Linked DNA regions of Homo sapiens. Each later gene encodes a partner of the first gene's protein in a complex. Each region holds a gene or a part of one and is shown on either strand. Other genes may lie near its edges. The genes, in order: PPP1R8 and TTF2.

The links.
Region 2: PPP1R8 (region 1) and TTF2 share a complex: the UniProt entries of both Homo sapiens proteins name them as parts of the spliceosome.

What each region holds. Positions count from the first base shown.
Region 1 is NC_000001.11:27,833,756-27,837,673, reverse strand, and holds part of PPP1R8 (nuclear inhibitor of protein phosphatase 1), read right to left. Parts: intron 3,274-3,918; exon of another isoform or gene 3,108-3,273; intron 1-3,107. UniProt on the Homo sapiens protein: Inhibitor subunit of the major nuclear protein phosphatase-1 (PP-1). It has RNA-binding activity but does not cleave RNA and may target PP-1 to RNA-associated substrates. May also be involved in pre-mRNA splicing.
Region 2 is NC_000001.11:117,058,183-117,062,100, forward strand, and holds the start of TTF2 (transcription termination factor 2), read left to right. Parts: upstream 1-2,143; 5' UTR 2,144-2,164; coding exon 2,165-2,192; intron 2,193-2,272; coding exon 2,273-2,375; intron 2,376-3,918. UniProt on the Homo sapiens protein: DsDNA-dependent ATPase which acts as a transcription termination factor by coupling ATP hydrolysis with removal of RNA polymerase II from the DNA template. May contribute to mitotic transcription repression. May also be involved in pre-mRNA splicing.

The DNA.
Region 1 (3,918 bases):
CCTCCCAAATAGCTGGGATTACAGGCGCCCGCCACCACGCCCAGCTAATTTTTTGTATTTTTAGTAGGGGTTTCACCGTGTTAGCCAGGATGGTTTCGTTCTCCTGACCTCGTGATCTGCCCTCCTCAGCCTCCCAAAGTGCTGGGATTACAAGCATGAGCCAACCGCTGCGCCCGGCCCAACTTTTCTTAATTCTATTAGATATAAGTGGCCTGCCCTCAAGACAGTAACAACTCTTTTTTTTTTTTGAGACGAGTCTCTGTCACCCAGGCTGGAGTGCAGTGGCGTGATCTCGGCTCACTACAAGCTCTGCCTCCCGGGTTCACACCATTCTCCTGCCTCAGCCTCCCGAGTAGCTGGGACTACAGGCGTGTGCCACCACGCCCAGCTAATTTTTTGTATTTTTAGAAGAGACAGGGTTTCACCGTGTTAGCCAGGATGGTCTTGATCTCCTGACCTCATGATCCACCCGCCTCAGACTCCCAAAGTGCTGGGATTACAGGGGTGAGCCACCGTGCCTGGCCTGAGATCAACAATTGTATGAAGAGTGGCTGTCTTCTGAAAAAAGGTTCTGTTGGATCTTAATTTTAGATCAATTAGGAAACAAGAAGCACAATGCATGTCTATAAGGTAACAAGATTGCTTTTAGCCTAGTGAAACCGAAAAAAATTGTAATAAGATTGCTTCTCAGAAAATAAACATTCAAATGTATATTTGGGAAAGGAATGAAGTGTAAACACCTATTTCTATTCTAATCATGCTGCCATAGTCCCAAAGTATTTTTGTTTGTTTTTGAGACAGTCTCAAAACAAACAAGTTTCACCATGTTGCCCAGGCTGGTCTCGAACTCCTCACCTCAGGTGAATGGCCAGCCTCAACCTCCCAAAGTGCTGGGATTACCGGTGTTAGCCACCGTGCTAGACCTGAGCTAAATTTAGCTTTATAAAAAACTTGCTGGCCGGGTGCGGTGGCTCAAACCTGTAATCCCAGCACTTTGGGAGGCCGAGGCAGGCGGATCACAAGGTCAGGAGATCAAAACCATCCTGGCTAACACAGTGAAACCCCGTCTCTACTAAAAATACAAAAAAAAAATTAGCCGGGCGTGGTGGCAGGTGCCTGTAGTCCCAGCTACTCGGGAGGCTGAGGCAGGAGAATGGCATGAGCCCGGGAGGCAGAGCTTGCAGTGAGCCGAGATCGGCCACTGCACTCCAGCCTGGGCGACAGAGCAAGACTCTATCTCGAAAACAAAAACAAACAAAAAAATAAAAATAAAAAACTTGCTATACCTGTCCTTATATTTCTTTTAATCCTGGATCAGTAAAGCCTTTGCCACAGATCGGTTATAAACTGGACTGTTATAGATGAAGGACTCTAGATGAATTATTGCTAAAGCTTCTTCCAGTGCTAGTGGTCTAGTAATCCAGTGGGAGCACTTGAGGAATAACTCTCATTTGGGTATGTTGTGTTTTTCCTTTAAACATGAGGTCTCATTAAACGCTAGTTCACATTTCACACTATAGTCCTAAAATCCCTGAGAAAATATAGCATAAAGCTGAGTAGAGTATAGTCAAGTTAGTACCCGGCTGGGAATCAAGAAGCTTATATTTCATTCCTGGCTAAGTCCTTTAACTCACAATGGGCTGCTATTATCCCCTTACAAAACCAAAAGATACACCTCATGCAAGCACAATTTCAGCACTGATTACAGTAACAACTGCTAGGCGCTTCTATGCCACACACTATGCTATGAGTTTTACATTATATCATTTCATCCTCACAACCACCCTATGAGGTGGGTAATACTATTCTCTTCCTATTTTTATAAATGACAAAATTGAGGCATAAAGAAATTAACATACTCAAGTTCACACAGTTAGATACTTGTGGGCCGGGTTAGAAATTCAGATTTGTCTGGCTTCAGAGTCTAAGCTGTTTTAACCACATTATATATTTTCTTCATTCTACTTACATCAAAAAATGCACCATATGGCAAGGAATATTTTAAGGAGAGAATAAGTACTGTGGGTCACACTCTTTTCCTTAAACAATCACTTAGCCAGTTTCTTTCAAGCTCAGCCTTAAGGTTCAATTAATTCAGGCTAGCTTGGATATGTGGGTCACCTCTGGGAAACCCTATCTGGCAGTGCCCATCTGCTGCTGGAAGAGCTTGTTCTGGGCCCACACTACTATGGAGAACCAAGATTCAACAACAGCCTGACAGCTCAGTCAGTCACCTTCATGTCTGCTTTGACCCAAGGTTTTTAAGACTTGAGTTAAAAATAAGACATTATTTCAGGATTAAGAGAGAGCCCAGAAATTTCAACAACTTGTTCTCTCTAGGTAATAGTTATTTGGGCTGAATCTCATTGCACTTCTCATTCATATTTATATGCACATGGATTATGCTGTCACAAACTTAAATTTGCTAACCACAGTGCTCACAGATTGTGCTGAAGGAACATGAAAGACCACCAGCTCTTGGGTTCTAAAATAACAATGACTAAATTTCTATGAATCTAGGGTGCCAAAAGACATACTAGAGATTTAGGGATTTCTTTGAGAGGAAAAAAAAAGAGTGCCTCCAAATTAAATGTACACATTCAGTATTAAAGGCACCCCAATTACAGAAATGTTAAAATGAATGAATTTTTTTTTTGAGATGGAGTCTTGCTTTGTTGCCTAGGCTGCAGTGCAGTGGTGCAATCTCCACTCACTGCAAACTCTGCCTCCTGGGTTCAAGCGATTCTCCTGCCTCAGCCTCCCAAGTAGCTGGGATTATAGGGGTGTGCCACTGCACCTGGCTAATTTTTTTACTTTTAGTAGAGACGGGGTTTTGCCATGCTGGCCAGCCTGGTCTTGAACTCCTGACCTCAGGTGATCTGCCCGCCTCGGCCTCCCAAAGTGCTGGGAGGCCAGGTGTGAGCCGCCACCGCACCTGGCCAAAATGTATGGAATTTTAACAGAAAACAGTATGTCTTAGAACCAAGGAAATGTGTTAGATGTTGAACAATGTGCTGCTTCTGTCCAAGTGAATGAAATAATGCACTGGCTTTCAACAGTCACTAAAGCCGTAGCTTCTTGACTAGCTATGGCCAGTACTGCTATCCAGTTGTGCCTCTGAGTTATAACTCAGAGTGTATCTTTACACACTGGGCTTAAAAGACTCATGGCTTTTGTTTTAATATTGCACTTCTTAAACCCAGCTATCACAACACATCACAAGCCTTTGACACAAGGCTAGGATATAGACAGCTCGGTTAGTATCAAGTGCTGATCAAGTTTAAATCTAAAAATAAGCACATCTCAGGTCTACGCCTCTCAAGAATACAGTGATGTCTAAGGATTGTAACTTGACAACTTTGTGGCAACTCAGCACACTTAACAACATCGAAAGAGAACGTTATCAGCTAATAGACACCAATGATCAGAGGAGTGTCTGGCAAGTTAGAGTGTTTTGAAAATGTAATACCAATTATTCCACAAAGGAATGTGATGTTATCATTAAGACTAGGCAACCCTGTCTGTTTCTTCCTGTTGCAAACTAAAGATTTGCTAAATTCTAGTAATAAAACAGATCCCTATATGTCTTCAAGCTTTGTGCTATTCAGCAACAAATATTTTGTAACTGTGGAACAATCTATAGCAAAAAAGGTTTTACAGATATTTTAGCTAAATTATTTCTTTGAATAATCTTGAGGTTTTAAATCTTTAAGAGAGAAGAACCCATGACAAAGGGGCTCTCTGTGACTGGCTGAGTCCATGATGTATTCATAACAGGAGAAATCATTAAAACTCGTGCATGCCTTAATACTTTGCAAAATACCTGGTTATCTCTACAACATCTCAAAAGTGACAACAATATATTTACAGAGTAACCTTCAAAAGATCTCAGATAGCTTTTCAATCTAGCAACCGTGG
Region 2 (3,918 bases), about 89 Mb from region 1:
GACCGCAGGTGCCCACCACCATACTCAACGGGCATAAAAATTAATTTTAAAAATGTTTCCAGTTATGACCATCTTTCGTCCAATCTCAAACTTATTTTTTTCAATCTTGTAAATATGATGAGGTGGAATAAGTTGTCCAGGGACTTAACATTTTGATCTAGTATATTTTTAATTTATGGAAGAAATATTCCTCCTGTCTGTGATTTGGCTGTGCACACTTTTGTGAGGTTGGACTGGAGATACCGACTTGGGTACTTGCAGAGGAGGAGCTTCTTCCTTAACGGGATATTTAAGAGGCCCCGATTTTGCCTTGTTTCGAAAATTATTCAAGAAATAATTAATTACCATGCCCCTCTTTCTGCAAATCCTGTATTCATGGTATACTACCTCCAATACAGCATCTATTAAACATGTACAAATACATCATTTGCAAGAATAACAATCTTGGAATAATGAAAATGCTTCTACCTATTTGTTGTTCCTGTCTTATCTCTAAGTTCATCTAAGTTTCGGAAGGGTAGTTATGTATAAAGGAACTTCACTTTGGAAATTCCATTTTTCTCTAGTCCTAGAGAGTTACTGCTAACTCCATTCATTTTGACATTTAAATACTATTTTATATTGTTATTTAAGTGTTCAACATGTACTAGTTCAGTCTCCTCAAAATACTGAGTAAGTTCCTTGTGCTTAGAATAGTTGTTTCAAACTTTGTGTGTGTGAATGAATGAATTTTACATTTCTCAAGCACCTAGTCCACAACGGGCACAAAAAAGCTATTTAGTAAGTACTGTTTAATTAATAAATGATACCTCAGGTTTGTCTCCCTTCCTCCGGATCCCCATAACATGTACATTTATCACATCGCCCAGATTTCCTAGACATTACAGATTTTCTGTTCTACGGCCCCCATAAGAACAGTGCAGGTGCCACACCATATGTCTGGGACATATGGTCCTCAATAGCTGCAATATGAAACTATTTCTATTGCAATAAATCTAATATCTATTCCTCTCTGTTTACTAATAGTTTTGATTACAACTTCAAATTTTAAAAATCGAGGATGAAGTTAAATAGAAGGGAACTGTCCCCTTTCTTCTATTTAACCTCGTCTTCGATTTTTAAAATTACAAAAGCATAATAGTAAAAAAAAGTTTGACAATACAAAATGATAAAGTAAAATTCGCCTTCACCAAAAGTCATCTATTTCCCCTTCTGTGGTTTCCACGTTGCGGCTGGTAACTCGGGGCTTCCACGCTGGGCGAGCCTAGAGAACATCCAGTACACACAGGAAGCAGCAGCGCGGGCCAAATGGCGCTGAGACCTGCGCACCTGTCCACGGACCGCCCACTCGCCAACTCTGACCTTGGGTGAGTCTCTCAAACTTGAGTCTCGGAATCTTCCACAAAATGCTACCCATCTCACCAGGTCGAGTGAGGAGGGTCGTGTTATGTGTAAGCACTTTGTGAAATCTAAAGCACGAGGCAAACGTAAAGCATTGTAGGGGGTCCTAGAGAAGTCTTTGTGCCTGCCTATCAGAGCCGTTTCAGTTCCCCGCAGCAGCTTCCAAGGACCTCCCACCATGCCCGCCGCTTCGGCTCCTGCACTGCAAATCTCGCGGCTCGGCCTGCAGCGGCGGCTTCCCCTGGCCTCCCACCCCAGCGACTGAGCGCGGAGCCCAGCGCGCACGAGCGCCAGCCTGGCTCAGAGACACCCACGAAGCCAGGGCCTTTCAGCGCCTGCTAACTGGCGCTACCCCTAGGGCCGCCTCTCGGTTTTAAACGTAAACAAGAGTTGCCCTTCCGTCTTCCAAGACCTGCAAATCGAAGCTTCTTTTCCTCCAGAAGCCCCGCCACCTTCTAAGCTTCTCCCCAGCCTCAGCCACGCCCCAGCCTGCAAAAGCCGGGTCCTTTACGCCCCCTGGCTCCGTATTTGATTTCGGCGCGCGCCATACCTGAGGGCAGCTGTGATTGGTTGGAGGTGAGCGAAGTTCCTATATGATTGGCTGATAGCGGCTAGGACGGGTGAAGGCCAAGGGCGGAGAATTATGGGAGGGATTAAGACTGCAAGAGCTGAGTGATGGTTGGTTCCTGAACAAAGAGGGCGGAGTAAAAGGCGGAAGCAGAATTGGGGGCGGGGCTTTGTGGAACTTGGGGGACCCAGCGAAATGGAAGAAGTTAGGTGTCCAGAGCACGGTAAGGGGCTAGGGTCTCAGCGTCCCGGGGCCTGTTGATTTAGCGTGGCGTAATCGTTGTTCACTTTCTTCTCTCTTCAGGGACTTTCTGCTTTCTTAAGACCGGCGTCCGCGATGGCCCGAATAAAGGAAAGAGCTTCTACGTGTGCCGGGCAGACACGTGCAGCTTCGTGCGGGCCACCGAGTAGGTCTGGAGCTGGGCCCCACTCCCTGTGGCTGCCCGGGGCCTCCCGAGAGGAGCTTCCCGCTCCCCGCTGTCGGGCGTCACAGGGCCGAGGAGTGGTGGGGCCCTAGTTTGCGGTGTCAGGACCCTTTAAGCAATTGGTGATCCCAGGGCAGCGTGGCGTGTTCGGAAGACGCCCAGCTAATTCTGGCTGTGTGACCCGAGGCTGGTTACCCCCCTCTCTGGGCCGATGGTTCCCCTACCTGTAAAATTGAGGATCCGGTGTTTTCCAGCTCTGGGTTTCTATTCACTTGACAGGCCTTAACCACTCCCTTCTCCTGCCCAGACAGTCCCTCCCCCTTTAAAGGAGTAAGGACACACAGCAGACATAGTGGAAAATAATTTGTCCCTGTTTTGCACTAGTTTTAGGCCCGACGGTTTTTTTTAAATGTTTGAGCTTAAAACACTCTAGTGATTAGTTGTTAGCCTTCTTATTTTTAAGTAGGATTCTCTGCATCTAAATGGTGAAATTGATAATTCAAAGAAATTAGCGCTGGAAGAAACAACGGAGGGCCTGGCGCGGTGTGTGACGCCTGTAATCCCAGCACTTTGGGAGGCGAAGGCGAGCGAATCGCTTGAGCCCAGGGGTTCGAAACCAGCCTGGGCAACATGGTGAAATCCCGTCTCTACGAAAAATTAAAAAAAATTGTCTAGGCATGGTATCACACGCCTGTAGTCCCAGCTACTCGTGAGGCTGAGGTGGGAGGAGAGAGTCAGAAATGTTAAGCATCTTCTCTAAAGTGAGGAAAGTTAATAGTTTGTCAAGTGTTAATGTTTTCACAGTACCAAGTGTCTACATTTTCTATGTGAATTTTAAAACTATCATCACATCATTAAACATCTCCTGCTCTCTATTCAGCAAAACTTGGTAGAGAAAAGTTATTTTTCTCCGTGTCAGATGTAGAGTACATAATGGATATCAGTATTAGAAAAGTGCCCTTTCAACATGTATACTAACTTCCCATGTTTCTGTTTCATGAGTTAGATGATTTACACTGAGCCTCTCAGATATAGTACCCAGGTCAAGTTTTGTGAGATAGAAGCATTTTTACCTTTGCAGGAATTCAACATTAATGGTGGCATAAGATTTGGTTTTACATTAAGAGAAACACTCTTATTTAGGATCCCATCTACACAAATGCTTTGCTATACAAACTAGCACAGTGGTATTTGAAGACAATTATTTGATAAACTTGATTTATTTGGACTATATCTGATAACCAATATACAGGCCAAAAAAAGTGCCACAGGTTTAGGAGAGTACTTTAAACCTTCACTCAAACCTGTTTACTCTCAAATGTTATATATATTTAAATTTTTTCATAATAAGTTGGAAGGGAGTGATTAAAAACTTACACAAAACAAGAAGCATATAGGGCGTATTGTTAGAGGTAGGCGTGTGAATAACACTAAGTGACAGCTCTCAGCTTGTTAGAGGGAAAGGATGAAGGGAAGAGCCTGGGGAAAATTCATACAGGGCCTCACAGCCAGCCCTAATTATGTC